Linked DNA regions of Homo sapiens: regions 1, 3, 4 and 5 are each linked to region 2. Evidence: fine-mapped expression QTL. A gene starts in region 2. Each other region holds a variant in brackets. All regions are shown on one strand. Distances are between the middles of the regions.

Region 1 (6,586 bases), 140 kb before region 2:
GGCAGAGACACAACAAAAAAAGAGAATTTTAGACCAATATCCTTGATGAACATTGATGCAAAAATCCTCAATAAAATACTGGCAAAACGAATCCAGCAGCACATCAAAAAGCTTATTCACCATGATCAAGTGGGCTTCATCCCTGGGATGCAAGGCTGGTTTAATAGACGCAAATCAATAAATGTAATCCAGCATATAAACAGAGCCAAGGACAAAAACCACGATTATCTCAATAGATGCAGAAAAAGCCTTTGACAAAATTCAACAACCCTTCATGCTAAAAACTCTCAATAAATTAGGTATTGATGGGACGTATTTCAAAATAATAAGAGCTATCTATGACAAACCCACAGCCAATATCATACTGAATGGGCAAAAACTGGAAGCATTCCCTTTGAAAACGGGCACAAGACAGGGATGCCCTCTCTCACCACTCCTATTCAACACAGTGTTGGAAGTTCTGGCCAGGGCAATTAGGCAGGAGAAGGAAATAAAAGGTATTCAATTAGGAAAAGAGGAAGTCAAATTGTCCCTGTTTGCAGATGACATGATTGTATATCTAGAAAACCCCATTGTCTCAGCCCAAAATCTCCTTCAGCTGATAAGCAACTTCAGCAAAGTCTCAGGATACAAAATCAATGTACAAAAATCACAAGCATTCTTATATACCAACAACAGACAAACAGAGAGCCAAATCATGAGTGAATTCCCATTCACAATTGCTTCAAAGAGAATAAAATACCTAGGAATCCAACTTACAAGGGATGTGAAGGACCTCTTCAAGGAGAACTACAAACCACTGCTCAAGGAAATAAAAGAGGATACAAACAAATGGAAGAACATTCCATGCTCATGGGTAGGAAGAATCAATATCGTCAAAATGGCCATACTGCCCAAGGTAATTTACAGATTCAATGCCATCCCCATCAAGCTACCAATGCCTTTCTTCACAGAATTGGAAAAAACTACTTTAAAGTTCATATGGAACCAAAAAAGAGCCCACATTGCCAAGTCAATCCTAAGCCAAAAGAACAAAGCTGGAGGCATCACACTACCTGACTTCAAACTATACTACAAGGCTACAGTAACCAAAACAGCATGGTACTGGTACCAAAACAGAGATATAGATCAATGGAACAGAACAACAGAGCCCTCAGAAATAACGCCACATATCTACAACTATCTGATCTTTGACAAACCTGAGAAAAACAAGCAATGGGGAAAGGATTCCCTATTTAATAAATGGTGCTGGGAAAACTGGCTAGCCATATGTAGAAAGCTGAAACTGGATCCCTTCCTTACACCTTATACAAAAATCAATTCAAGATGGATTAAAGACTTAAAGGTTAGACCTAAAACCATAAAAACCCTAGAAGAAAACCTAGGCATTACCATTCAGGACATAGGCATGGGCAAGGACTTCATGTCTAAAACACCAAAAGCAATGGCAACAAAAGACAAAATTGACAAATGGGATCTAATTAAACTAAAGAGCTTCTGCACAGCAAAAGGAAACTACCATCAGAGTGAACAGGCAACCTACAAAATGGGAGAAAATTTTCGCAACCTACTCATCTGACAAAGGGCTAATATCCAGAATCTACAATGAACTCCAACAAATTTACAAGAAAAAAACAACCCCATCAAAAAGTGGGCAAAGGACATGAACAGACACTTCTCAAAAGAAGACATTTATGCAGCCAAAAAACACATGAAAAAATGCTCATCATCACTGGCCATCAGAGAAATGCAAATCAAAACCACAATGAGATACCATCTCACACCAGTTAGAATGGCAATCATTAAAAAGTCAGGAAACAACAGGTGCTGGAGAGGATGTGGAGAAATAGGAACACTTTTACACTGTTGGTGGGACTGTAAACTAGTTCAACCATTGTGGAAGTCAGTGTGGCGATTCCTCAGGGATCTAGAACTGGAAATACCATTTGACCCAGCCATCCCATTACTGGGTATATACCCAAAGGACTATAAATCATGCTGCTATAAAGACACATGCACACGTATGTTTATTGCAGCATTATTCACAATAGCAAAGACTTGGAACCAACCCAAATGTCCATCAATGATAGACTGGATTAAGAAAATGTGGCACATATACACCATGGAATACTATGCAGCCATAAAAAATGATGAGTTCATGTCCTTTGTAGGGACATGGATGAAATTGGAAATCATCATTCTCAGTAAACTATCGCAAGAACAAAAAACCAAACACCGCATATTCTCACTCATAGGTGGGAATTGAACAATGAGATCACATGGACACAGGAAGGGGAATATCACACTCTGGGGACTGTTGTGGGGTGGGGGGAGGGGGGAGGGATAGCACCTGGAGATATACCTAATGCTAGATGACGAGTTAGTGGGTGCAGTGCACCAGCATGGCACATGTATACATATGTAACTAACCTGCACAATGTGCACATGTACCCTAAAACTTAAAGTATAATAAAAAAAAAATGACAACATGCTCTTTTAGGCTGCAGAAACTAATATTGGAGCATCTGTAACCTTTGGCAGAGTCTTGTTTGAAACTGGTCTGTACTCCACTACACTGTAAGCACCTTTAGGCAGGGACCTTGGCATTCATGCCTGTATCTCTAGCCCTGGCATGGAAGGTTCTTAACACACACATGCGAAGGAGTGGGTGGATGAGGAACTTAGGAGCACAGATCTCCTTGGCAACTGGAGGACTGTCTACAGGAGCCAGTGCAGAGCAGGTGCTCCAAGTTTGTGGTGAGGACGGGTATGGTAAGACGACAAGAAACTTCAAGGTGAGCTGTGCTCTGGCTCAAGGGCAGACACGGCACTGTGGGAGAGCTACCTGTAACTGGATCATGCGGGAAGGCTTCCTGAGAGATGGTCTCTTTGCCGTGCCTTGAGAGACAGGATTTTCCCTCATGAAGGGGACTAGGAGAAAAATGCATTCCCTAGTGAGGGAAGGGCCTGAGCAGACGCCTGGAGGGAGGAAGGACTAAAGAGTGGAGAGGAAACAGACATGTTTGGGAAGTTGGTGAGTTGGGGTGGAAACACGGAGCTTGAGGTGCTCAAGGGCCTTCCACTTGGGGGAGCTATTTAATCAGACATTACGCCTGAGCTGCTCCAAGGGCAAGGCCTGGGAGGAGGCTGTGTGTCAGCTTGGGTGGAGGCAGAAGGCAGGGTGTGCACGTGTTGGGGACGCCTCTGCTCCAAGCTGGGAGTCGCACAGATACCCCTTGCAGATGACGGGAGATAGAGTCAGGCAGTGCTGTGGG[T/A]AAGGAGCCTCGTTGCTTTACCCGCTCATACCCTAAACACCTGCCTTGCCCAGCCACAGTCCCAAGAATGGAAAAAGCACGTTCTGTGAAGCAGCCCCGGAGGGACCTCCTGGTGACCATTTCACAAAACACAGTCTCTACAGAACATTCAAAACAGTTTTTCGGAACTTTTTTTCCAGCAGGTTTTATGAACTAACAGCTCTTCCCCTCGAGTGTGAGAGCCTCCAGGCTGTCACCAGGAATATCACGAGCCATCGAGTCTGTGTGCTGATATGTCACTGCCCTCCCACAAAGTGGTCTGCAGTCCACGTATAAAAGTACAAAAGGTATGAAGCCTGCGGTGAAGAGCGCAGCATGGTTGAAGACACACATGGACCCTGGGGCCACCCCTGGACACCTGTCCCACAGCTCTGCTTCATGCCTGTCAGCAGCCTGTCTGAGACACCCTGCCAGCCCGGACTGGGCTTGCAGAGGGGGCTGTGTGCCCGCTCCCCACAGAAGCAAAGGCTCCGGGGCCCCCACACATGCCTCCCTACGCTCTCAGCCACGAAGAAAGTCATCTCCAGTCATCAGAGTTGGGGGCAGGCAGGCGAGAGTCATTCAGCAGCTGGTCCTGGCTCAGCATTGTCTGAAAAGGACACAGCCGAAGGGTCAGTTTAATAGAGTTTTGGTCCAGGCTGCCCTGCGGCAGCTGCACCGGAACTAGAGGGCACTGGGTGAGGGCTGCATCTGACACAGGTGCACTATAAGTTTATAGTGTCCCAAGAAACCCTGAGTATTGGGTCAGAATAAACAACACTATTAAGATAAAAATAAATTGTTCATCTTAGAAATAAATTTTCTATTTTCAGGCCACCAAAGGCCTAGATCATAAGGGCAAGTGTGGGCAGATTCCTTTCATGGGTGGGCCAATAAATAAAAACGTTGAGTAAAACTGATCCTGTTTGGAGTCAGGGAGACTTTCCTGTTTTGTCCTTGAAAACAAGGAGAGTCGTGTGTCCCTGTCCTTGTCCTGTCATCCCAATGGGCCTTGCTAGACAAGCAAGCAAAGTACAGGGACAGGGGCCTCGATGGGGACAGACACTATAGCCAATAGGCTCAGTGATGGAATGTCCAAGAACTAAAAGGCCTTGGGAGTGATGGATCCTCAAAAACAAATCCTGTGCTCTGTGGCTGGCCTTTTCCTGCCAGCTCTAGTCTGCCTATAAGCCTGGCAAGGAGGATGTCATTAGCCCTGCTTTACAGATAACTAAGCCAAAGCTCAGGAGAGAATGACATCCAAGGTCACAGAGCTAGTGAAGTCAGAGCAGGGACTTCAGCCTCACTCCAAAGCTGCTTTTCGAGGCCAAACTGCTTCCCCATGATATGGTTTGTCCTTTCGGGCGTGCCAGGATGTGCTCACAAGCCTGTCAACACTCTGTGATACCCACAAAGTCAGAGGCACGATAGGAAATGCATATGTCTCTGGGCAGAGGGTGGAAGTGTCCACTAGGACAGGATGCAGCCTGGGCTCTAGGCTGATGAGACAGGTGATCTAGAGTTGCTGAGCATCTTGGTTTCCTCATCTCTAAGCCTGGGAAGAGGACCTGAGATCTAGTGTGCTTTAGCTGGCTTTGGCTAACAGCCGATGAGCCTCCCCACTGCCCTTAGGGGCTCAAGGTCCAGTAACAGGCCAACAGAGAAGGCCCCTGGGCTGCTTTCTGCCTCGTGGCTGGCTCAGGCTCAGGCTGTGACCCCAGCACTAAGCACCATTCTTCGCCGTCCCCCAGGCCTTGTGCATACCACACCACACCACACCAAACTCACTGGGCCTCCCTGGCACCAGTCTGACTGTGGGGAGAGGGTCAGAGTCCTACCGTAAGGCGGTGAATGTCTTGGGAGAGGAGCCCTATCTGCGTCACGGTACCTTCCGAAGGTGCCATCTGTAAAATGGGCAGCAGCCTGGTCAGCACACATGGATGCAGCTTGTGATTCAGAGAGATGGCATGCAAGTCCTGTCGTGCTCAAGCCTGGCTTCTCCAGGGCATGCTTCTCTGGAGGGACAGGCAAGGAGTGGGCCAGGCCCTGAGGAGTGACAGGTGGGTGGAGCACATGCTGCTCCTGTTTCCTGGGGAAAGGCATCAATGTCCCACACTGCATGCATACCTCTCCTGGGGCCCCACTGGGAACTGGCATTCAGGGTACACAGAGGCAAGACACAAGCTTGTCAGAAGCAGCCCTTCTGCACGTGTTCAATGTTCCAGCTATTTCCAGGAGCAGAGAGCAGTAGGAATGAAGGCCTTCAGGATGCTAGACTCCTGCTACCAGGCAACAGGAGCTCAGACACCAATGCCCTGACATAGGTGGGCATCCTTCCTCACTACTCAAGAGCCTCCCTCCTGCCCCTCCTTCTCAGGTAATGCTGGTCTCTTCCTCCTTCCCTAAACCTACTTAGACACTGTAGATTTGGAAACATCCTCTGTAAATTTGGAGGGCACCAAGTGTAACCCCTCCCTTGTTTTATAGGTAGGAAAACAAGCCCACAAAGGGAACAGGACTTACTTGAGGGTGCAGAGAATCAGTGGCACAACAGTTCCATGCAGGTTTTGAAAACAGGCACATGCAGAGATCCCTGTACCGCAACATAAGAAACAAGGGACAAAGCCTGCCCTGACTGGCTCTACAACTCCAGTGGCCAGGCATCAGCCTGAATGAGCACTTGTCATCCAGTGGACCTGGGTACCAGGATCTATCAGCAGCATTGCCAGCTGGCAAGCTTGTCCCCACATCTCTCACCTCCCAGGAGGCAGTGGCCTGTGGCAACAGACCATGCCTGAGGCTGCTGGTAGTTTAAGAAGCAAATCTTAGCATAGCCTCCATCTGGTACAGAATCAGAGTGCTACAATGGAATGGAGTCATCAGGCCGTGCCCAGGCCATCAGACAGCGGTGACGTGGTGTTACTCTTCTGCGATGAGGCCCAGGGGATTGAGGGGAGCCAAGCACTGCCTGGGGGCAAACTAGAGTCTTCTGACCAGGAGTCCAGACTGGCAAGGCACATCTCTACCTCAGTCCCAGCCAGACAAGGCCCATCTGGAGGAGCCATTATCAGTCATTATCAGTCAGTCAGCCTCTAAATCAAGGGGACAGATCTCTTTCAGTTCTGCCAGCAGACAGACCAGCCCCCACCATGGTTATGAGCCTAGCTAAGTCAGTAATAGAGAAGCCAGCAAAACACATGAAAGAGAGTCTTTCCAGCAAGGTGCCTTCTTGTCTCCCCACCATCCCCTTCACTGGGGGGGCTCATGCCACTGAAAGCACTCAGCTTTGAGGT
Region 2 (6,586 bases):
CGGAGGACCCCACTGGAAGTCGGACTATGAGCGGCCCCTGCAGGGACCGCCCCCCATCCCTTCCTGAGCAGGCCAAAACCTCCTACTCGGATCTCATTTGCCTTGCCGCTGAAGACTGATGGTGCCCTGGAATGGATGCCCCGGCAACTACCATCACTTCATCCGAGCCAAGGGTAACCCTGATGGTTTTAATCAACATGGGTGACCTACTCTGCTTTACCTAATTTTTCAGGACCCACCCAGTCCTCCTAAGTCTCTGTTGTGGGAATTGATGGACAAGTCTCCTAACCCCGAGCCACCCCTCCACTTTTCTGCTTCCTGCACACCTTTTCCTTCACTCACTTTTTCACCCCAAACCTGGTCTCATTCCCAACTCTGCTCCTAGGCAGGGACATCCTTTCAAAACTCCACACTACTCTCCACTTCCACATTCCCCGTAGTACCCAACGCATCAACCCAGACCCCTCCGAGGCTTCTAGCTTTCTTCTGCTCCTCCAACCTCCCACCCTAAAACATGCAACCTTTCCTTACCCCTATCTGTAGTTAACCCCGCTGTTAGGGATATTTCCACACCCTCAGTTGCAAAACACCACACCCCTGTCCACATTACCCTTAAAGACCCCACACTATTGAAGCCAATCTGCTCCTCCCAGGCACCACCTCCCAAAAAGCTGAACTCATCACCCTCACTCGAGCTCTCACTCTAGCAGCCGGACAACAGTTCTCTAATTTAGGAGGATTTAAAACCCTGGTAGGGACAGTAATCTTCATCACTTTTTCTCCCCTGTGTTATCCCACTAATAATAAAAGCCACTAAAACTCTTATTGAAACTACAGTTAGCCACCAGACAATTCAGACTATGCTCCTGCTACAACGACACGATGGATACCAACACATCTCTCAAGAATACCCTAAAAATTAAGTTTTTCTTTTTCCAAGGAGCCCACACCACCCCTAAGTCACGCCTGAAGTAGTTATTGAGAAAGTCACCCCTTTTCCCTTTTTACTATAACCAAATAGACAGGAATGAAAGATTCTCCCCGGGGTCTGAAAGCTTGAAGAGATGAGTAACTCCTCCCTTCTCAGGCCCAGTCCCAAGGTGCAAGGCCAGTTGCGCCAGCAGTGTGCATCAGCAAGACAGCAGAAGCAGGAAGACAGCCGGCCAGAAGACACCTACCCTGGCTGGAAGACACGTACCCCTTGAAGACAGAGAGAGGGGCCGTCTGGGTACTGTGCAGAAGTTACATCAGACTGAGACACTTCTTGTTTACAGGAAACTATAAAACCCCTGCCTCGTCCTCACTTGGTGCTGACGCCATTTTAGGCCTCAGCCCACCTGCACCCAGGCGCTCGTTAAAACAGCACGTTGCCCCACACCGCCTCATGTTGTCTGTTGGCAGGCTCTCGGGGTTCGAACCAATACAAGAACCTTTCATAAACTTTACCTTAAACATTACAGTCTAAAGGCCATACCATTCCTCAGGCCCAAAGCTGAATCTTCCCAGCATTGTTTCTCCCTCCTCACTTCTCATTGCATCTAATCAGTCTAGAGACTGTCCCATTCCCTAGTCCTCTGTCCTACAGATTCTATCTCTCCGAAGTCTCCCTACCTGTCCCCACCTCATCACTCTCTCAGGCCCAAAATAAGGCCTCATCCCTTTGACCCTGGATCAGCCTCCCGGTTTCCTATCCGGCCTCGCCGCCCCCACTGTCTTTTTCCCTTGGAGTTTGCTTCCCACCACACTCCCAGAACTTTGCCATTGCAGCAGTTGCCTTCGGGTTTGTCAACAGAATCACCTGGGGGAACTTGGTAAAAACATCCCAGACTACTTAATCTGAACGTTTTACAAAACTCCCCAGGCGATTATGAGGCATAGCCAGGTTTGCAAACTGCTACTCTAAATCCTTGCTACACATAGGGAAATGATCAGCAAGCTCCTGGGAATCTGTTAGAAACACAGAATGTCAAGTCCCACCCCTGACCTATGGAATCATAATTTGCATTTGAACAAGATCCCCACAGGATTCTCAACTTTGAGAAGCTCTGCTCTACAGTGTTGTCAGACCATGCACTCCACAAATATTTACTGGATTTTCTCTGTATCAGGCTAGGAATTGGGAGGGTCAAGGACCAAGGTCTTTGACTTTGAGAAGTTCACAGAACCATCAGTCAGTCCCCTGCTGTGCCTTCAGACCAAGTCCAGACTTCTGTACTGGACAGCTGGGACTATTTTCCAGCCTTGTCACCAGCTTTCCTGACTAGCACTTGACATAAGAGCCAAGCTGGACCACTGGCCACTTCTCATGGTGAGTCCATGCCTGCCTGCCCACACAGTTGTCACAGCCCAGGCCACACTCTACCCTTCTCTGCCTCAAAAACCCCAGGAGGGATCCTTTGAGGTCCATCACATCACCCTTTCTTAAAATTATCCCAGATTTCCCTGCTCAGATGAAAGACAGGAATTCCCATAACTTTGTTCCTACCGCCTTCATGTCATTGATCTCATTCCACTTACTCTTTTAAAGTCAAAGCGCATCTCCCTTAGCTACCCAGTAAAGAAGGCATCATGGTAAGCAGCTTATCTCTCCAGTAGCAATAAGCTAACAACTGTCACATCACCAAATCTTAAAATAGTATTACTAATAATTGAAATATGTTAAATAAAACATGGATAAATGCAATCAGTGAAAACCTCATCAATCATCCCCATCTCCCACTTCAAATTTATTTAGCTATGAATTTAAGCAAAGTACAAATGGGTTGCCTCTCTTAAGCCAAAGAGAAATAATTTCTAAATTAGATAACACTTACAGCTTTCCATACACCTATAATAATGAAAGACTGAATATGCTGAAGATGAATTATGTCGAAAACCAACTACTTTTCTGTAGTTGACCATTTAACTTCACATAATACACTACAAATTTGAAAACACTTCAGATTTGTATTACAATCAATTAAGGAGGGGTTGAGAAAGGAGAGAGACGAAGAGAAAGACAGGAAGTAGACCAAAATATAGAAAAGGGACACGGATCTATACCAAATATCTGGCTGCTCTAAAAGTAAAAATATAATTAGATTCGTTTTTTAAGAAGATTAAACACTGGCAAGAATGCCTGTCTTAATCCTATCCAAACGCTGGAAGTTCTGTTCTCTTGTTACATAATCTTATTTTCATCCGAGGAAAAACTGCGGGTCTGGAATCTGATGTGATGAGGTGAGGAGGGAGCCCACTTTTAAATAGGACCGTCCCCATCCTGCAGTCTACTGGGACGCGGCGGCTTTAGATTTTAAAAAGTGTGCTGTATTTTTGCACTTACACTACAGAACTGGCTTTAGCCGAGGCCCTGCATCTAGACACACGCTGTGTCCACCAGAGAATTGCCTGGGCTGACAGACCTAAAGCTTCCGCAACCTCCTTAGGCTCCCTAGTCCACGCCGCTGCTCCCCGGGCTGAGCAGGGCTGGGACGCGCCGCACAGAACTCAGGGACCCCACCTCCCTGCGCATCTCCAGGGCCACGCTGGCACCTGCAGGAGTGCGGACTGTCCGCGGATCCCAGGCAGGGTTGGGTGGAGATTCGCAGCCAACCCACAGGAGTTCTGCCCTCCTCCCAGGCTTCTGGCCAGTGGAGTTGGAGAAGGGTCCCCGTCCTCGAGCCTGGGACACGCTCCGGGGCTCACAGAGACACTGACCCACACGTCCCCGTGGTTCGTAGCTCTGGGGGCGCTCCACTCCCTAGGTAATGCTCCCGACGGGGATCCCAACCCCGACCGCGCGGCAAGCCCGGGGTGTGGGGAGAGCCCACTGACCTGGGTACGGGGCCGAGGCTCCTCTCCGGGCGGCTCAGGTGTGCGGGCCGCTCCCGTGTCCCTCCCACCTTCAAACATGAGAGCCCAGAAGCGAGCGACGGGCCACTGGCCCACCGACCAACTGCCGGACCAAGCGCCCGACCAACCAGCGGACCGACCGCAGCGGCCGGGGCCGGCGCCCACGTGACGGGGCGGGGACCTGCGGAAGGCTCTTCCCGGAGCGCCGCGCCCCCACCCCGGGACCTGCCACAGGGACCACCCCCTTGGGCACCCGCTCCCTCTCGGGCACCGAAGAAGCCTGCTGGGACCCGTCCACCAGGGTTCCTGTTCCCGGGGGACCGGCCTGGTCAGCCCCGCCCCTTCGAACCTGCCTCGTCCCCACCCCCTGGGCCGCGCGTCCGGGCCCCAGCCCCGCCTCTCTCGGCGGACCGCGCCCCCTTCCGGGAGCCCCGCCCCGTTCGCCGCGCCTCCTCCTCCGCACAGCTCCGGTTGCGGGGAGGCCCGGGTGGGTACCCGGCGCTCCGGCTCCCAGTCTCCTGGGCTTCTCCAGTCCTTCAGCGCCGTTCTCCGGTCACAGGGAATGAAAGCGAGGAAGAAGGAAACGGTGTCGAGAATTGCGAAGAGAGAAAGCATAGAAAACCCACATTAGAGGCACTCCCAGAGCAGAAACCCTTCGGAGCATCCCGACTTCCTCGGCCCGCGTGCAATCCAGGCAAAATTGAGGTTGTCTCTGAGCCGCCCTCCCTAAGCAGGTCGGAAAGCCCCCGAATCATCCCAGGTCCCGCCGCGCTGCACTCGCAACCTGGGGTGGAGGTCCCTCTAGTGGTTGGCACCAAACAAAAGTTCTGTCTTATGAAGAGCCGAGGTCAGGAAGCATTTCCCTGTGCCCAGCGCCAAGGTCTGGGACCTTAGGTCCAAGAAAAGCGTTGGCAATGTCTGACCACAGGAATGGGTTCTCGAACTGGGGAGGACTGAAGCTGGAGATCTGGTCCAGCCCCTACCTCCAGCGTGTGGCCTGAACCCGTTTTGGTTGTACTGCTATGTTGTGGCCCTGCCCAGGCCTCCAAGGACTGGCTGCTGTTAAGCTGTTTAAAATCCCTGTAGGCCTCAGATGGCAGCGACACCAGGGACTCGGCATAGTCCCCAGCTCTGGCAGGAGTCACCACAGCCCTAGCCTTTAGTTCTCTACAGGCTGGAGTGTCGACAAACTCCACAGGACACAACTTTTTCAAACCAAATTTACCCTCGCGGTCTGAAATGACCAGTAGGCCCAGGAGAATTTTACATGTGAACAGAACCTAACCCACCCTGGCAAATATGAGACGTGTGGTCACTGCGGGAACCTGGCCAGCAGCAGACCAAAGCACAGCCAGCAGGGGAAGGCTGGGGCCCGCAAGAGTTGTGTTACAACAGGACACCCTTCAGTTCTCTTTCACTTCCTTAAAATAGCAGCAGAGCGACTTTTGTAGACGCAGGCTGCCACAGTTCACACAAGGTCATGGCTGTTTCCGAATCCCACCCTTTATTGCCCTAGCGGAGCCACTCCCCTTACCTCCGCCCCCAGAAACTGCTAGCCTGTTCTTAAATTGATACAGTTACCTTTTTAAATGTTCTAAGTCACCGGCTCTGGAGCTTCTTTGCACTTTGGAACCAACTTGCGGGAAGGAACTTTAAAAATACTGATATCTCGATCCATCCCCAGAGGTTCTGATTTAATGGTCTTGGGGATATGGCCACGGCATGAGGACTGTTAAAACTCCGCAGGTGATTCTTATGTGCAACAAAGTTTAAGAACCACTGATGTAGGCCATGTCGATGTCAGTCTTCACTTAAATCCAACAAGACCCCAGAGCTAAAACGTTCACCTGAAAGAAACCCCATTCCCAGGCCTGCATACTGACCTGCGCTGGCTCACAAGAAGCAAAGTGGTCCCTTAACAGGGGCTTCCTGGAGAAAATGTCTTGACCTAAAAGAGTGATTCGAGCTGCAGGGATTTAAGGTAGGTACCAAGGTGAGTTGTTTGGGGCAGATGTGCCCTGCAGAGCTGTCAATCAAATCATATCCCAGGTGGAATCTAGACAGCACATTTCAGGCAACCTCCCCTCTGTGCCTCCAAAGGAACTATGGTTGCAGGACTCACTCCTATTGATAAATCTACCCCACTATCCTCTGTGAGGCAGCCCACATTCCTTCTATCTGTGAAATAGGTAGGTAATAGGGCAGGTAATATCACATTTATTTATTCATACCTGTCTCATTCCACAAAGGATTTGGCCTCTCTGTACCATTCTGTTAGAACTGTGGGTAATTACACTGTATCCATGGGTTGAGTAATTCCCTTCTGCCAAATATCTACTCAAATGCTATGGAAAAAAACATTTTCTCTTCACTGCCTATGGTCCCAGCCTGGGCTTGGCAAAGACAGGAAAACAGCTGCAAGCACACAAAGCAAACCTTCTCATGTGACCAACCTGGAAAGACAGAGGCTTCAGCACGTGACACAGACTGGCACCACAGCCTGCACTTGTGACTCGAACTTAGCTGAATTGGACAAACACGTGGGAAACACTGAGGAAGCCCCTGTCAAGAGGCATGCTGCCCTCGGTGCCACAGGGCATGCCTGCTGTGGCAGAGTCGCTTGCCTGCTGTATGGCTTCTGTCCAGATTCCAGAATATTTACCAGGGCCTCAGTGTGTTGGGAATCATTCACAGTAAACCTAACACAAGCAGCACTCCCAGAAAGCTTTTGTGCTTAGGGTATGTGGGCAAATAT
Region 3 (6,586 bases), 83 kb before region 2:
AAACATTATTTTGCCCTGAAAAGTGTTCATAATCTAGGTGGGCTCATGTGGACCTGCCCCTTTGCTGGCTCTGGTTGGTTCTGATTTGCCTGTCTAACCCCAAGAGAGGTCTTCTTGCTCTTTCTGGAGGCTGGATGAGTTCATGTGTAGACAAAAACAGATGGGAGTTGGGAGGTCAGCCCTGAGCAGCGACAGACTGAGGATGTTGTGGTTGGGGATACAGTGAGTATATTGTTCATGAACTAGGTAAGGAACTAACTCCTCACCTCTTGTGCTCCTGGAGGAAGGTTGACATTGGTCAGGAGAGCAGCATGGAGAGAGACAGCTCAATGGGGTTCTTGGAGCCCCTTTAAGCACAAGGTTTGGGCTATCCTCATTGATTTGGCTTTCCCCAAGTCCCCCTGGAGTTATTCCAGCCTGTAGAAGGGGCCAAGTCTAGAGCAGAGGTTGCAGATTGGAGGCCTGCAGGCCAGGCTTGACCTATAGGTATGTACTGTATGATTCACACAGCATTTTAAAAAACTTAAATTAGCTGCTAATATTTTAAAAGCAGAGATCCTTAACTCTTTAGATCTGGATTTTGAGTCTCTTGTGAAAAATGAGAATATCTAGCATTACCAGGCCTACATGGGCAGTCAACTGGAGTAGAACAGCAGCTGCTGCCTTCAGACAGGATGTCTCCAGCATGCAGGGTTATCAGGAGCAGCAAACCCCGAGGAAGCACCTTATCTACAGGCAGTTAGAAGGGCGCACACTGAGACAGTGAAAGGATTTCCTTCAGAGGCTTTGAGCAGCAGGCTCGCCTTGGCTCCAGGCAGGAATGGTTTCTGAGGCTGGCAGAAAGAGGCAATTGTTTGCCTCCATTCTCTGCCTCTAGGCCATGAGTCATTCTTGCTCCTACCACCAGAAGCCAAGGGCCCTGCAGCCCAGGATATCTCAGTCAAATCAGGCAAGTGTTTGCCTGTCCCTAGCTCAGAGAATACACACATACTCCAAGCCAGAGATATTGCATCAGCACTGTGGTGCAAGAATCAAGTGTCTTCACAAACAGCATCAAACAGACTTCAGGAAAGCAATAGCATGTGCGGCCGAACATTCAACTTTGGATTTAGATCTGGGAACTCAAAAGATCTCAAGCTCTGGTGCCACCCAGCCCAGCGAACACATGAGTGGAAGATGAGGCTCAGATGTGTCCTATGGCTTGAACTCAATTTGTTAAGAAAGGAGCACTGCACACTGCTATCATTTGACCCTTGACAGTTTGAGAGAATACAATGAAAGCTTATGGGCAGAAAAATAACTTGGTCAAGTTCAGGAATCTTTGAAACTCAGAAGTGGCTACCATACTCCAAAATATGCCAGGTTAAGACATCTACCCTCTATGGCACATGGTACCACACGCCCAATACCAAACCCACAGCACACAGGAAAGAGGGTTTAGAATAAACGGGCTAAAAAAGGTAATTGAGGCCGGGCGCAGTGGCTCACACCTGTAATCCCAGCACTTTGGGAGGCCAAGGCGGGTGGATCATGAGGTCAGGAGATTGAGACCATCCTGGCTAACATGGTGAAACCCCGTCTCTACTAAAACTACAAAAAAAAAAAAAAAAAAAATTAGCCGGGCGTGGTGGCAGGCACCTGTAGTCCCAGCTACTTGGGAGGCTAAGGCAGGAGAATGGCGTGAACCCAGGAGGCGGAGGTTGCAGTGAGCCGAGATCGCGCCACCGCACTCCAGCCTGGGCAACTGAGAAAGACTCCGTCTCAAAAAAAAAAAAAAAAAAAGTAATTGAGTTTATGACTTTAAAAAAGTCTAAAATGCCATCCATGGGATGATGTTTAGAGGAACTAGACAGCCTCTCCCCAGGTGGTGCTGGGCATCACAATCAGACTCCTTGACACAGAGACTTTGACAATGGAGCAGAAACACTGTCATAGAGAGCTATGTAGAGAAGGCTCAGAGAAGCCAGCACAGGCAGTCAGATAACTCAGGCACTACAATGCAGCATTCTGTTGACCTCTGATTATGTGGTTACTCTCCCAGCATAGCCTTCCTGAAACATCAACCTTCTGACACGTTCCCTTCCGTATTCAAATGTTCTTGCTCTCTTTCTGGATTGTTTACACCATTCCATCATCTTCTTCCCTTATCCTTCTCACCTCAAAAACACACCTTGTGCAGACTTGAAAACACAATCTAGTAGGTTGTTTTCTGCACTCTTTGTGAAAATACTTTCATCATTTGAGATTTTTTTCCATCAGGCTATTTTCTTTCCTGGGTCTTCAAAAGAAAGATTCAATTAAAAAAAAAAAGCCTCAATTCCTTTTGCTAGTCAGATTTTTAGGAAATATTATGAACAAGAGAAATGGCACACAACCTAAGTAGAAAATCAAATGGCGCCAAGAATGTGGTAATTTATTAATCAGCAATGAAAAGATAACAAACAAAAGTTCCTGAATCATTGAAACGGGTTTTTATGAAGACATATATATAAAAACACTGACTTACATTTGTATAAAGTTCTTCAAAGGCACTCAAACAAAACTAACAAACACCAGATTAATTCTCATGACATTTGTCATGAGACCAAAGGTAAAATGCAAAGCCTGTGTTCACCAGTATGCTGTCAAGAAACAATCTGAGTCTTATGCTGATCATGACAATTAAAAAAAAAATGCTAGCGCTTTTGGAGGAAAGATTATAAGTAGTCCTCTAATTGAATCCACTCATTTTAAGGAACAAACTTTTGTTCTTTAAGTAATTGTGAGTACCTTTTATGTGCCAAGTACTATGCCAGGAGTTATAAGGCATACACACATAAACTTCAGTCATTGTTTAATTTTCAAGATAACTTAAAATGTAAGAATGACTTAAGGAAAATTTAAGATTAGATATATTAATACATTTCATTTAAAAACCTAATTCGCTTCTCAACAAATTCTGAAGTTTTGATACAATAAAAATTCAACACCCCTTCCTAAAAAATTGTAGCTCATTATTTATAATACAGTAAAAATATTTAGGAATTGAAAAAAAGTTAAGTCAATTCTGATACTTTTACTAAGAAAATCTATTATAGGTGATAGTAAAGATGACAATACAGCAAAAATTTTAAATGGGAAAAATATAATATTAAGCATACAAAATCTGAGGACTAAATTGCATATCTCTTGTGATTACAGATTTGGAAAGTACATGTACACATAACAAGGACAAAAAGAAAACAAGGAGAAGACATTATTTGAATGGTAGGGAACAGTTAAATATCTTTTTCCATTTTGATATCTATTAAATTATACTAAAAGGTTATTTATATAATATTTTTATTTTAAAAACTATATACAGTAGGAAGAGGCAGAGCGAGATGGGAAAGGGGCATAGAATCAGCTGAGAATTGACTTTCTAAAACTCCAGATGGCACCCACAGGATGAGGGTGAGGCCCCCAGCCGAGCGCTCCCTCACTGCACCAGGTCTGGAGAAAGTGCTGTCTGGGAATCTGTCTAACCAGCTCAGCAGGTTATTCATCTCAGGGCAGCCCTTCCCTTCCCTACCCCCTCTGCCACTCTCAACGTTCAGGTTGGTTTCACCTGCTGTATAAACACCGTACAACTGAGCAGCCAATCCCGCCCCCAGGCAGGATGGGAAAGCAGACAGCGAGGGCTGTAGCCTGGGCACACAAAGGGGCTTCAGCACATGAGCTGCTTCGGCACCCAAGGGCCTTCAGTGCACCCGCCCTTACCTGTTGAAGCATCTCTTCAGCAGCATTGAGTTTCACCTGGTGTCCTTCCAGACACACTTCCAGGTCTCGAATCTTTTCTCCCTGGGCTTCTACTTGGTCTGTGAGGACACTCACCTGTTCCAGGAAATAAAGCAATGGTGGAGGACCAGGGATTTGACATGGTGCAGGAAAGCCTCCCCACCTCAGGGGAGCCGTTAAATCTCACCACTGACTCTTACACACAGTGAACGATTTTGATTTTTGCTGAGTGGCAGGTGGAGGAAGTGTCCTGAACGAAGGCAGCTGCAGTTAGATTCTTACCTTACCAGGGAGTCTCGGCCACTGCTCTGATGACATGGGTCACGTTTACTGCTCTTGATAGACTCAAGAGTAAAACACCCAACAGCCACAGGAGCTGCCTCTGGGCTGGACTCCTGCTCCTTATTCCTCTTCCAGAACAGCCCCGACCTCAAGGCACATCTCAGCTGGCTTGCCAGCACTTCTGCAACCTCGTGTGGAAGAGCGGTCCAAACTTCATGGAAACTAACCAATGACCTTACCTCTCTCATAAGGGTGTGAGGACTGCTCACCTATCAGGTGAGTGTTTTGATGCAATTAAGGAATGTGGGCTGTAAAGGGCATGTATTAGCACTGACAAAACTTGGCTCCAGAAAGGTTATTGTGCTTCACAGGCCAAAACATGACTCTAAGTCATAAATATAGAGAAGCCACATTACACATACGGTGGCAGAAAAAAAGTCATCTTTCTGAAGAACGCTGAGAATCCCTATTAAAAATATTAATTAGTAAAAACTCATTTACAGGAAGTCATTCAAATTATGCACTAACTATATATTAACAATGGTTTTCATAGCCTTCTCTATTAGCAAACGGCCCCAGGATCCTTTTTCTTTATTAAGAGATGGTTCAAAGCAAGAAGAGAGAGAATGAGTGTCCTCCCCAAAGTGAAGAAATTAGCAGTTGATAAACTGAGATCCTTTAGACCTTTTTGGTTAGAGTTGTTGC[C/A]ATTTACATATAGATTATCCAGAATTATTTCTCAGTCTGAAATGGAATAATAGATGGTGCATGAGTTGATGTGAATTCATTTATGAGTGTTTAGATAAACTTTCTGAATTATAAAGCGCCTGTTTAAAAAGGAACTAATCTAAATTAATATGCCTACTTTAAGATCTCCATTTTTATTTTCCCAAATGATTAATGAATTATTGAAACATATTCCTGGAGTTGACACATGGTTAACATTCCACTTTTAACCAAAAAAAATGTTAAAAAAAAAAAAAAAAACAAGAACGGGCTCTTTCTATCAACTTGGTCCACCTTACACGCAAACCTTTGTGGGTGGGTGTTTATTAATCCCTGTGGCCCAACACTCTCAGCCATCCTGAACTAACTCTACTTTCAAAAGGGCAGGACTCTGGGGGTGGGCTTTGCTCACTGGAATCCAGAGTTTCTGTTTGTGAAGGATGTTTTCTGGTTAATCTTATTATGAGGGTTAAACATTTCTATGGTCTATACCATGCCTTGAGGCCATGTGTTGGTGATACTCAAGGAATCATAGGATCTCTAGCATTCTATAGCTAATTGTTCAGCTCCAGGGGCTTTCTGAACCTCAACGCTGATTCTAAGTATTACAAATGAAGGGATGTAGGAAATCCAGACAAAATACATAAAGGTCATAAAATGTGACCTTTGTTCACTAAAAACAACTATTTTTGAGACCCTAATAGATGCTAGGCATAATTTTAGGTACTGGAGGATACAGAAGTTAAAAAAAAAAAAAAAGGATAAAAATCCTTTTCCTAAGGAGTTACATTATAATGAAGATACAAGAGATTCTGGTTTTGTTTTTAACTAATCCTAGAAACAAAGTATTTTGTTATGTGTGATTTGCCTTGTTCTATGAGTAGAACCAGGAAAACTTTCTGGGCCAAGGACTCTAAATTAATTCAGTCTGGCTAAGCTGCTGTGTGCATTAAGCAAGAGGCTCTACCCTGCTGAGAATCTGCCTAACCAGCTCCACTGCAGAACAGCAGTGATCACTTAACAGACACTCCTGGAGTCTGCCCATAAGCTCCCAGTAGAGTAGAAACTACTAGGGTCAACTTCTGACTTTACTGGCAAGCAGCTTCCCAATTGTGTTAGGATTATTTAAATGGGGATTATTCAAGAATTTGGAATTTTAGAAAACTATGAATGTGAAAGGGAGCATTATTACACAGGACTTTGAAAAATTAAATTGTAATCCTCTGTAAATAGGAATGTGCTATTTCAATCATGAAGGGTCCTGGTTCAAAAGTTTGCAATTTCATACTGTTTGCTGCAAAATCTTACATTGGATACTCTTTCATTAATCATGTCATTGGGATAAGAGTTTCAAATTACACATCCCTCAAACATCTGTGCTACAATGTGCTATTCAATCTGGCCCTTGCTACCTTTCTAAAGGCAGCTCGCACCACCCTTTTGAGCACAGACTGCAGGCACAATGGCCACTTGCTGTTCTTCCCACACCCCAAGCACACTCTTGCCTCAGTGTGTGGGCTGGACTGACTGCCTGCTCTGCCTGGAATGCACTTCTCCAGGTATCTGCATGGCTCCCTCCTTGGCTTCCTCCTGTAAAGGAGATCTTCCTTTTACTACACAATCCTCATCCTGCTTTACTTTTTTCCAGCGTTCTTACCAGCACCTGAAATAGTTAATGTATTGGCTTATTGTCAATTCACACTCTCCTTTTTCTTTTTTTTTTTTTTTTTTTTTGAGATGGAGTCTCGCTCTGTTGCCCAGGCTGGAGCACAGTGATGCGATGTTGGCTCACTGCAACCTCCACCTCCTGGGTTCAATCAATTCT
Region 4 (6,586 bases), 70 kb before region 2:
TTTACTCTTGATAAGTTCCTCATGCACAGAGAGCTGGTTGCTGGCATACTCAAAGAAATCAAGATTTCTGCACCTTGGAGAACATTGCATTTTAGGGATGAGATTTTTCAGGGGATATGTCAGGTCCAAAAAAGAAACTTCACCATGAATTGTGGCGAACCCTAGATCAGCCAAATTGTTCCCCTTGTTTTCTTGCTAAGGAAAAGAAACAGAGAAGACTTGTATCAGTCTTGGCAGAGAATCAGCACCCTGCTTTAATGGAATCTATTGTTTGTGTAGACTAGGCTGAGATCATCGCCTTTACTGTAATTATGTGGTATAAATGAGGGCTGCCATCTTCTTAGAAAGATCCTCATCTCCCTGCCACTTGATCCAGGCTTGACTTGTTGAAATCCTTCCTCTGAATTTTTAAACTTGGGAACAGAGCATGGTAGTGGTGGTGCCACAGTTCTGAGGTTGTCAGTGGCCATGTCCTGCTCCACGTGGAAAAAGCTGGTTTGCAGCAAGAGACAGCTATGAACCCAGTGTGCACAGAAAAGCAAACAAAAGCCAAGAAAAAGACTGGAGGCATTCTCATCCCCGGTGCACGCTGCCTAAAGGCAGAGATATATTCCAGCCCTTCCTGTTGGTTCCCTCTTGGCCTAGTTCAAACTGAGTTTCTGTTATTTGCAACCAAAAGTTCTGGTTAATACATTTGTCTCAAAAGGTGATCAACTGACTAAAATTTACTCCTTTGGAAACAGACTTGTAGGAAAGAATTCCTGCTATTTGGATATAGTTCTGAATTGCAAAGGAATTCTGCCACTATTGCTTGATTTGCTTAAAGTGGCAATTTTTAAGACAGGGCTGTCAGTCCTAAGCCAACTATAGTTCAAACCAGGATTATCATCAGGGGCTAATTGAGATCTACTTTGTGGCACAGGGAGTGTCTGTGTGGGATGTACTAGGATAAAAAGGGCACTCAGTGTCCTTTGTGTGTGGAATAGATGGCTTTCTATCCACCACCTGTTTGCTTCCATTCTTATTTCCCATGTAGAGCAAAAAGGTTAAGACAGGGAATGAATACAAGATGCAACAGGCCCATGGGCATCAACCGGGGTTGGTGGAGGTGGGGAGCAGGATGTGTGATATGAAAAAGTAAGTTCAAACAAAACAAGAAATAAACAGGAGCTAAAGTCTAAAAGATATTATCAGAAAATGAATCAGAAAATGAATAAATGAAGGGTAAATAACAGAAATAGATCTAACAACTGTTTAAGAAGTTATGTCGAAAGAATTACATGTCAGACACAGCTGTACAAATGCCAGGTCTGGGCGCTGGGAGGCTGAGAGCTCTGGGTTCCCTGTTCCCCTCATTTGGCCCAGCTGAACTTCAAGTCAGGGGATCCCTGGGGACTTTCTTGTGGTGCTTCCATATTCATTTACAGAATTCCTATTGCATCCTCCTCCCCAAGGGACCACCTTCTCTGCAGAAAGAGGACAAACCAAGAATAATTAGGAGGCTGGGGCTGCACCTAACCATGTGTAATCTCAAGTAGGTTACCTCATCTCAGGCTTTCCATCCTTTCAATAGAAAAAATCATGCTTCACGGAGCAACAGAAAGGGTCAAGTTAGGTCAGCATACCTGAAAACGTGTGGCACTAAAACTACAGAGTGCTCTTTATAGTAGGGTGCTCTAAAAATTCCTGTGTGATATAAACAGTTTTTGAATAATCATAGGAATATGGAAATGATTTTTAAATTATAATTTAACAAATGAATTTAGCTAACTTATAAATGATTTAGCTTTGTTTAATCTAAAAGACCAACATTCAGTTAGAAGCATGAGTTAGAAGGCATCATTTAATGCCTTCTACAAAAAGTTTTAATTAATTCACTCTTTTTGTGTAAGAGAACAACAGGGGCAATATTTCTGATCAGGATGCCTAAGAAATATCTATGAAGATCTGTACAAACAACCCAAGGGAACAATAACCAAAATACTTTCAGGCTTGAAATGAAAAAACAAAACAAAAAGAAAGCCTCTGTGACAGTGACAACGCAGAACCCACCATTAGCTAATAGCCCTGGGATCATGTCTTTGGGCCACATTGCCAAAGATGAGTTCACTTCTCCACTATCCCTGAACAAGTGCTCACATTTTTGAGTCATACATTCATGGCCACATATTTTTCTTTCGTACAAGTGTTTTATTGTGTACTCTAAGTATTATGTGCTACATACATGTTTATAATGAGTACACTGGGAATTTTTATAGCTAGTAATAACCAATCATAAACACTTGGGTTTTTATTTCTGTTCCAATCTAGAGGTTAGTTCAAATTTGGGTTAAACATGAACTTTTCAGCCAAGTTAACCCCCAGCGGCCTCCTCAAAGACATCACCCTCTGACTGCAGTGGCTGTTCAGATCTATGACAATGCTCTCTCCTGGCCTAGCCCTTCCACTGTAGCTTGGCCAAGGGATAGCCATGTTAGTCTCTCCTTGGAGCTCTAGACAGGGTGAGTGCTTGATGCCATGGCTGGGGTCCTGCAGATTTGTGGTGGGCAGCATGACTGCTTTATGGCCTGGCTGGCCATTTGCAAGGAGAACACACTCTTCACATGTGCTCTGGTACACCTCAGGGATGCTGGATGAGGGCAGTTCTGTAGCACTCCCCAACTGGCATGACCCAGGAGACTTCCTGCTGGCACTGTACTTCATTGAACTAGGGGAAGGAGTTGGTTCCAGAGTAGTCAAATGGGGCAAGGGCTAGATCACAACAGGGGTGTCATTGGTATACAAGTAAGGAGTGTGGGAAAACCTAAAACAGTCGGCTCCCCAGTGTGACAGCTCTAGCATCATGTTGGTTTTTGAAGCCAACAGTTGCTTCTCAGAGCTCTTGCCTTGGGATCCTCAAAATGCATCTGCCTTCCTTTTTTTGATATCAATAGTTGTCATCTTGGCCAGGTAAAGAGTTACATTTCCTTCAGTGCTTCTAATAAGCTATAAATTCCAGTGCCTTCAGGATCTTGGCCACAGTACATACACTGTCCCAACTGGTCAGAGCATGTTAAATTATATGATGGCTCTTTGCCTGTAAATACGCTGAGATTTTGAACACAGCACGTTGGGTAAGCCTTGTCCTGGATAAGCCTTAAAATG[G/C]TTCTTCCTTATTTAGCCATTTAGATGACATGTATTTTTAGCTGAATAAGAAAACAAAAGAAAATGTGTAGTGTTTCCAGGCTGCCTAGTCAAGAGGATCTTATCAAAATCCAGAAAACTAGTTACAAGTGAACCATAGCTGCCAGGCACAGGGCATCAGGGGAGATATCAAAGTTACTAAGGCTATATCTTAAGCTCAGAAGCACCACTCACATGCAACCCCTTTTAGAAACTTAGAAGACATAAACCTTAAAAGTAAGGGGACCAAAATAAATAAATAAACAAAAATGATTGGATCACAAAAGCTACAGTCAATTCCTGTTACAGGACTCTGGTTACCCAACACCAAGGGAACCCAGTAGTATGAGTGTAGGCAGGTTCTTATAAAAAAGAAAACTTCCCCTAGATTTTTTTATTAAGGAGTTTTAGGGCTTTCTGGCATTTATTATAAACCTGAGTATTCCCAGGACCAGTTCTGCTTTTTCTAGGTGAAGAACGGTCAAGCCAATCTACCATCTTTGTCACAGTGTTAAAGAAATTTCTTCCAAATGCAATGTGAATAGAGTGCAGTCAGATCCTCGGCTACCAGGAGTCCAACAAGAGAAAGCCTATCCTGACCTTGACCCTTATTCCCTCCTCCCCTCAATTATATATAAGGGGAGGTTAAGTATTGCTGATGAGGCTATCATCCAATGATCTAAATGTCCTCTTTTAAGGAAGAACAAAGCAGAGTTCATAAACAGCAAATAAATAGCTTCTTGGTTGACCAATGTTCACATCATCACACGTCATGAATGTATTTATGAAATGACTTGAATAATCCTGAGCACCCACTAGGTGCCACTTTCTGTGCTAAACAATGATTTAGTCCCTGCCCTTAAAAAGCTCTGTAGTATTACAGGGAATAAGGACAGAAGGAAAAAAGAAATCAACCTTTGCAGCAGGATGTAATAAGTACTATCATAAAGAGTTGTATGCACATGAATGGCAGGGGCATAGAGGAGAGACAAAAACATTTCACCTTCAAAAGAGAGAAGAGGCTTTACAGTGGAGGCACCATTTGAATGATTGAGTCTGAAGGCTTTAAAGGAATACCCCTAGGAGAATGTGAGAACAGCAGCTTTGGAAATAGCCTTCCCAATACAGACATGCTACCCATGAAGCTATGACAATCACTACCCTTCAGATATTCTGGTCTTCCAGAACTAACATAGCAAACACAGGACACCCTGAAGATAAACTGGCCATCAGCTCTCCAACCAAGGGGCTGGGATGAAGCTCCTAACTGATCTTCCTGGGGAGCTAGATTTGTAGAGAAACACATTTACCAAGATTTTTTTTTTCCCCAAAATTATAACCTTGGCTGAGCTTGGTCACTGCTAAATTCTCTTTATCTGGTAGCTGGACACATAAAAAGCTTACAGCACTGGGCTGCAGAAATAGCATTTGTATGTGTGCTGGTATCCTGTAATGAGAGGATGTGAAAGCCAGGAGGAGAGTAAAAAGAGAAGACTCTTTGAAGACTGTCCTCACCTTGCCAACTCCAATAGATGCACTGAGTCATTATTACTGAAAACACCTTCAGAGACAGTGCAGCAGGACTGGGTGCTACAGTTAGGGTGGAGTGGGCGCTGTGACTGTCTTAGCTCCCCTGGAGGCTTTAGAGCCTGGTGTCTCTTCGGCATGAAAGATCCAAAGTTTGAGAACACAGAATTAGGCAAGAGCCAAAGTAAGGAGCTGCTCCTCGGGTCACAAGAATGCCATTAATCCTACAAGATTTCCAAATGGAAATGAATACAAAGGAAAATGTATGGGGAAGATTGCCTGGGAACTAGAGGCAGCAAAAATAACATTACAGAAGGAATTTAAAAGATGACTATAGGAACAAAGTTAGTGCTCACTGGCTTCAGGAGTGACCAGGAGGGAGTAGAGATGAACGAGCAGGCTAACAACTCACCAAGAATCTTAACAGTGAAAGGAAGGTAAGTTATAAGGCAGCATGAAGAGACAAGCACAGGGTCAAAGATAGTTTTGATTTGTTTTTTCCCTGAGAATTGAGGAGAAGCATTTTCCACCAAGGGCAAGGGACAGATAGGCAGGGAGGAGCTGAGAGAAGAAACAATCAGAGCAACAAGAGGAGCTGGAACAGGATTGGGTCAAGGACAGGATACTGGGATAGCCTTGGCTGAGAGAAGGGACTCCTGGCCCATGAAACAGGATGCTGAAATACAGTTACATTTTGCGGTGAAAGGGAGGGAGGGTGAAGAGACTCATCTCAGTTTGGCTGGTTTTTTTTTTTTTTTCCTATGACATTGGTAGTGACATCAGTTGAAAGGGGAGTATAAGGTTGAAGACTAATGGAAAAGTGTGAAAGAGCTGCTATGGAGGAAGGGACAGAGAAAAGCAGGGATGAGTCAAAGGATCCCTAAGTGCTGCTGCCAGTCCACAAAACCAACAATGGCTGTGCTGCTCTGTAGTGCCCACAAGTTGTTCAGCAAATGACCCTGGTGTGATGCCAGTTTGTTAAATCCCACTGGGTAAAAGAGGCCTCTCTTCAAGGAGCTGGCAGGAGTTACAGGTGCTGGATGTCAGAGATGGCAGAATTCTAGCTTCTAAATTATACCAGGAAACATAATGTACAGGCATCTCGGGTGTGTTGGCCAGAAATAGGAGGTATCATAGGAAATTGAGGAAGCTAGTGCCCTTGGGTGACCATATCCACTGTTGCCTTTCCCATAGGATTGAAAAACCTCTCTTTTCAGAATCAAGGTTGGGTACCTGGCTCCCGAGTAACCAGAGGTTGTCAGTTCTGATCGATGTCATCCTCCCCATAACTCTAACACTTATAAAGTGCTTCCTAAGCACTTAACATACATTGAATTGGCTGGGCACGGTGGCTCACGCCTGTAATCCCAGCACTTTGGGAGGCTGAGGCGGGCGCATCATCTGAGATCAGGAGTTCGAGACCAGACTGGCTAACATGGCAAAACCCCATCTCTACTAAAAATACAAAAAATTAGCTGGGCATGGCGGTGTATGCCTGTAATCCCAGCTACTCGGGAGGCTGAGGCAGGAGAATCGCTTGAAGCTAGGAGAAGGAGGTTGAAGTGAGCCAAGATTGTGCCACTGCACTCCAGCCTGGGTGACAGACCTAGACTCTGTCTCAAAAAAAAAAAAATCTATCTATCTATCTATCTATAGAATTGTTTATCCATATATATAATCAAGGAAATTGAATTCTAGGAAGGTTAAATAAATTGCCCAAGTCTACACAGAGGTGAGATATGAGCCCAAGGAATCTAGATCCAGGATCCATGCTCTTAACTAGTAGGAACAGCCTTCACAGAAGCTGCTGCCTATTTCTGTAACTTTCACTGCAGTCCAACATGAATGCAAGGCAAGTCAGTGTCTGGAGTGAGGAGACCTCCGTGTCTGCCTTTGC
Region 5 (5,437 bases), 77 kb before region 2:
CTGGAATGTAAAACTATATATTTGGTATGAGCTCAGTTATTTACAATAGAGGCAAAAGAAAAAAAACCAACAACACTGGAAAAAAGGCCGAAGTGTTAACCTGCTTCTTCACATTTTTAGAATTTTAAAGGTTTTTAAAATCATTCATTACCCTTATGTTCATAAAATACAATGAAAGAGTAAAATAAGTAAGGTAAAAAGAGAAAAAACAAACACACTGCCACCTCATAACCTTAGTGCTCCAAGCTAAAGCCCATAGCCTGGGGTGGGTTCCAGGCCCCGCTCAACCCCTCCCTTCATTCTACCACCAGTCTAACTCATCACCCTTTAAGCTTTTAAGGAGCTGGGATTAGGATACTAGCCTTTATATTTTCCAAATCACTAATTAATATCTGATGCATACCAGACCTTGAGTAAATGCTTGCTTAATCAATTTATATTTTCAAGAGCTAACACAGCAAAGTGCTGGGCCTGCTTCTTCAACAGCCTTCTTATGAGAATACCTAACTCTATGTCCTACCAAGGCACACAAACTTTCAACAGCGAAAAAGCTCCCTTGATGATCTTTCTCCGTAAAAGGTTTTGGAGCTCCTCTCTTTCAAGCAAGACAGCTATCAAAGGCTTAGCCCCTGTTACCAGCTCCAGGGGATTTGGCATTAAAGGGATCAGTCTAGATCCAGCTTCAGACAATTTGGACTTGATTCATTAGCATTCACCCTTAGGCCTGTATCACCCACAGCTCTGTTTTATTAGTGGCATGAGGATATATCTCCCCTCCCTCGCAAGACTCAGGAGCTTCTGGGGGACAGGGCCCATTTTGTTCATTCTTAGCACCTGGAAATCAGCCTGGTCATGGGGCTGCCAGTGTATAGAAGCGGGTGCTTGGGAGTGCATGATAAATGAATGACTGAATTCACAGCCCCCCTAAGCCAAGTCTAGAGTTAAATTGTCCCCTCAGTTACTTAATGTTTTATTTCAGGAAAAGTCTTTTCTAAAAACATAGGCATTGGAAGGAGAAAAATTCCAACAGAGAAAATCTCTTGGGCTTCCCTTCCACTTAGGGGAAGCTACATAGTAGGAGGTAACAGGATAAGCCGATTCTCACCAAAAAGTACCCACCTGCAATATGAGGGACTCCTTATCCCCTTCTAGACGTGCCAAGCGTTCCTGGTAGGTTTCATTACTAGCAGCACTGTGGTGGTTTACCTGGGACTAAAGAGGACAGAAAAAAAAGAATACACTTAAAAGGTTGGAAAAACATCTTACCAACTTCTAAATGAAATAAGGGATGCATGTAATTTGTGAGGATAGTTTCACTGATTATATGTACAAAACCAATCATCAAAACAGGAAACCACAAGATTTCAAAACTACCATGAGGAGAACCAGATCACATGCCACTGAAAAGTGCGCCCTGGAAGTTGGCACAACCACCTCCTGGATGACCTCACTCCTGGCCAGGAGGGCCTCTGTGAAACTCTAGGCCCAGCAGTGCTTGACTTGACATGCTGGGTCTGGGTTAGCCAGAGGCACAGCCTCCAGAGGCATGGCGACAATGAGGGTCTGCTCTTTGAGGAGATTGGAGAGCTGGCACCGTTCTCCAAGGGACTACATGGGAACAGCTTCTGCACAGATCTTGGTATCTCCTAATTCTCATGCCAGGGTCCCCTGAAGCCAAGGCACACCTTGCTGCATGGAGGCCCATCCTGAACATCACAGTGAGCATGAAGGATGGAGGATGTCAACTACAAGGCCCTTCATTCACACGTCCCTTCCCACCCCAATCCCACCCTCCAATAAGAGCTTTGGTAGCCAGGCTGGCAGATCACATTTCCCCAGTGCTAGAGCTGAGAGAAGCAAGCTAAGACAAAACATCTTGAGAAGAACTTAAATAATAGCCAGAGGGATGCCAGAGCAAAAGCTAAGGAAATTACAGGTAGCCAGAAACTATAGAAAAGAGAGGAAAGGGAGAGGATGTGAAATGTCAGAGGAGAGGCAGAATCTTACAAATGTCCCAAGCAGAGAAAGGAGGTGTCACTTTCTTGGGTGTGTCTGACCTGGTTGTGGGCAGACAGGAGAGAAGGAGCTAATGTCACCAAGCTGGCCCCAACAC[C/T]TCCTTCCTCCATGCAAATGGAAGACTGAAATCAGACTGGTCTGCAATAGGCCACCCAGAGGCTTGGCAGTTTGAAAAAGTAGATCTGATTGCTAAATGTGGAACTGAGTATTATACAATCTGAGCTGGTCCAGTGAAATCAGCACTTCAATATTCACGAGGGAGGTGTCTACCACCCTAGAGGAAAGTCTTAATTGTGCAAAGAGGCAGATGTGAGAGACCCAGAGTTGGGCCACCTTGTCCTAGGCCATTTCCCCACATTTCAACTTTTAGCATGGGCTCTCCCACCACCCTCCATGAGAAAAGGCACCTCCTTCCTCCCCTCATCCCACCCCTTCCCAATGCACTGCATAGGTGAGGGAGGCAACAGAGCCATGCCCAGTCCTAGAACAGAAATGTGGACCAAGCATACCGCATTCAAACCCTGGATGCGCACTAGTGAAAGATTCATTGATTGTTTGTTGAAGGTGCAGCCAGAGGACAGGCCCAGGGGCCACTCCCCAGGCCAGCTGTGCCAGGCAGCACCTGCTGCCACACCACTGTCTTCTGCTCCAGCCCCTCTGGAGCCTATGTCTTGTTCATTGTTATGGAAGCTCTTTCATGCCACAGACAAAGAACCTTAACAATCACAACTGACTTCTTTGTTAATGGCAGTTTATTGTTGTTAAATTAATATTCCGGTTCTCACATGATCAAATTCTCTGACTAGAATCCAAGAATATATTATAATCTATATTTTCTCAGAACCAGAGAAGAAAAGGTAGGAGAATAATTCTTAATAGCAGGTCAACTTCTTCTCTGTCAAAGAACTCACATGATGGTGATTTCCAGTGGACAGAGAATTAAACAGGACCCAGGTGTCCAAGTGAAGCTCTGCAGGTAGAACCCCAGTGCCGAAGTCCACATGGACACGGAGCCACCTAGCACTGGCAGCCGCCCATTCTCTGGCAGGAAATGAAGGAGAGAAGACCAAAGGCAAGACTTCTTCCAGAGACTCCAGCAAGCCACTGTACCAACTATGCCTTATTCAAATGGTGTGCAGTATATTCTTCATTATAATAAAAGGTCTACCCATACAATCACCCAGAGAGGTAACTATTTTTACTAGTTGACAAAAAAAAGAGTAAGAAAGTTGAAATCATAAATTCAGTTAATAAAATGTATGACCTAGATTCTATAGCACATGCTAGAAGGGGGATCAAAAATCTAGATCCACGCTAGCAGCCAGTAAAAAAAGAGAGGCACAATCAGTTAACAGGATCCGCAGATCAGTATGGTAAAATCAAATCAATTGCCTAGGAGAAGCATAATTATTCCGGAGCAAGGGAGAAACTTCACGTTTTCATAGACAGATTTTGTGTGATGGGATCAGCAATATCCATGACACCCTTATAGTAAACAGAGCCCAGTAGAACTCATTACTTTTGTGTGATGTTCTCAGAATAGTTCAGAGGCTAGTGGACAATATGGGCCAAAGGTGAAAGCAATTCCATGGAGACTAATATAATATGGTCCAGGCACAGTGCTGTAAATACACAGCAAGCACCTTGTGCTCAACATGTGCCAGGCACTGTTCAGAGCACTTTGACATAATGTTTGAGTTTCTTACAAAATGTTTCTATTGAGTAATTAAAATATATTTGAAAATCTAGAAGCACTGTTAGAGGACCTAGAACAGTGGTTCCTCATATTTGCCCCTCCTATAACAGATTCGAGGAGCCAACTCCTTTCCTAGCAGGCATACTGGTCCATACAGCAGTGGTGTGCATGGCAGACAGGTCCCTCCCCCACCCCAATCACTGTTCTAGAGGAACAGTGCATCTTCCTCTTCTACAGGTCCTTCAAAATCACCGTTCTCCAGCAAGCTTTTTAAAGGTAAACAGCAGTGAAAGATAATGTTCCAGATGGAAACCCACAGTATCACTATCCTTTGCTTTTGATGAAGTCAGAGCCATGTGTTTTCATGATCTATATAGGACTAGGATGTTAAAAAAAACTGCGTTCTTCAGAAGGGCATAGGCCAGGATCAAATGCCACCTCTGCCTGGAGAAAAACTTGGAAAGCATCTGAGAACAGGGCCAAGAAGAGGATTGTCTTGCTGAATGCTAATACTCATCAGCCTAAGGTAAGGATTTGCCTTTGGGTGAATCTGTATATTCTGTATTCTTATAACCTGGCAACAGGTTCAATCACGTTCTGGTATCATTCTTGCATTATAAAATGACTACATCATCAAGGCATAATAAGCTTTGTGGTTATCAAAATGGGATTCCAATTTATTGAGAAAAATATTTTAAAAGACTGAGTTAGGACACATCTCTGTTTTGCTCTACTTTAAAGACAGCTTGCTTGGTCAACAAGTATACCTGCTTCTTTAATAGTGGAATTGCAAATAGAAGGCTTGGATGGATAGTGGATCCCTGCATGATTCCAGGTTTGAGGTGTCTCTGAAAAGTCTTGTCCATGTTCCTGATTAGGTAAGTCAGCGATAGAGCAGTTGCCCAGCTCTCCACGCATGAAGTCAGGTTGCAAAAACCATGCCCACATTTCACAGAGAAGAAAGTCCAATCAAATTCTGAAGGATGCTACGTGCTAATTTTCTGAGGTTTTTTTTTTTTTGGGAGGGGGTTGTTCTTTTTGAGACAGAGTCTTGTTCTGTCACCAGGCTGGAGTGCAGTGGTGCGATCTAGGCTCACTGCAACCTCTGCCTCCTGGGTTCAAGCGATCCTCCTGCCTCAGCCTCTTGAGTAGCTGGGTCTACAGGCATGCACCACCATGCCCAGCTAATTTTTTGTATTTTTGGTAGAGATGGGGTTTCACCACGTTGGCCAGGATAGTCTCAATCTCTTGACCTTGTGATCTGCCCACCTTGGCCTCCCAAAGTGCTGAGATTACAGGCATGAGCCACCGTGCCTGGCCTACATGCTAATTTTCTATTGTTCCCCACTGTGGGATGGCAAGTGACTATAAAGGAGAGTATCATCCACCCCCGTTATACTTGTTAAGGATGCTCAATCCACAGATGAATATAAGAAAGAGCTAATTTTTACTCAACCAATGACATTAGCCACTAGGCTAGACCTGCCAATGGTAAGCTGTGTTACATATATTTGATCAAACTTCCTCCCCCTCTGTTCTGATGGTTATTGCTACAAATGTGACAGGGAAAAGTCAATCTTCTCATTCAAATTTTCAGACCATTCATTCAAATGGTCAGAGCTATTTCTGATACTGTAATTCAGGTTAGTTACCTAAAAATATAGTGAGAACCATGTGATCTGTGTGCCCTGTGGAGAACTGTTAACTCCAGACATTTCCACATCC

Evidence for each region. PIP is the estimated chance that this variant, and not a neighbour inherited with it, causes the effect.
Region 1: its variant is fine-mapped to the expression of PPFIBP2 in whole blood (INTERVAL, PIP above 0.99).
Region 3: its variant is fine-mapped to the expression of PPFIBP2 in lung (TOPMed, PIP above 0.99).
Region 4: its variant is fine-mapped to the expression of PPFIBP2 in tibial artery (GTEx, PIP above 0.99).
Region 5: its variant is fine-mapped to the expression of PPFIBP2 in blood mononuclear cells (TOPMed, PIP 0.97).

The regions. Positions count from the first base shown.
Region 1 is chr11:7,654,044-7,660,629 of GRCh38, reverse strand. It overlaps a transcript of PPFIBP2 not described here. Among named protein-coding and RNA genes, the nearest start is that of CYB5R2, 16 kb to the left of the region's middle. The variant T/A (reference allele first, on the strand shown) is at 3,276.
Region 2 is chr11:7,511,349-7,517,934 of GRCh38, reverse strand. It overlaps PPFIBP2 (PPFIB scaffold protein 2), which reads right to left and starts at 3,936. Exons shown (of 24, transcript NM_003621.5): 1 at 3,814-3,936. LOC124902806 (leucine-rich repeat extensin-like protein 5) reads left to right here. Exons shown (of 4, transcript XM_047428005.1): 2 at 3,330-3,817; 3 at 3,895-5,812. The coding sequence ends at 4,725. OLFML1 (olfactomedin like 1) reads right to left here. Exons shown (of 3, transcript NM_198474.4): 3 at 6,558-6,586. RefSeq lists enhancers at 1,306-1,355, 5,041-5,160 and a silencer at 3,841-4,370.
Region 3 is chr11:7,594,826-7,601,411 of GRCh38, reverse strand. PPFIBP2 (PPFIB scaffold protein 2) reads right to left here. Exons shown (of 24, transcript NM_003621.5): 5 at 3,739-3,852. LOC105376535 (a long non-coding RNA gene) reads left to right here and starts at 4,232. Exons shown (of 4, transcript XR_007062579.1): 1 at 4,232-4,314. The variant C/A (reference allele first, on the strand shown) is at 4,744.
Region 4 is chr11:7,581,578-7,588,163 of GRCh38, reverse strand. The region is part of intron 3 of PPFIBP2 (PPFIB scaffold protein 2); the gene reads right to left. The region is part of intron 2 of LOC105376535 (a long non-coding RNA gene); the gene reads left to right. Among named protein-coding and RNA genes, the nearest start is that of PPFIBP2, 71 kb to the right of the region's middle. The variant G/C (reference allele first, on the strand shown) is at 3,145.
Region 5 is chr11:7,588,907-7,594,343 of GRCh38, reverse strand. PPFIBP2 (PPFIB scaffold protein 2) reads right to left here. Exons shown (of 24, transcript NM_003621.5): 4 at 1,120-1,212. LOC105376535 (a long non-coding RNA gene) reads left to right here. Exons shown (of 4, transcript XR_007062579.1): 2 at 3,950-4,238. Among named protein-coding and RNA genes, the nearest start is that of PPFIBP2, 78 kb to the right of the region's middle. The variant C/T (reference allele first, on the strand shown) is at 2,114.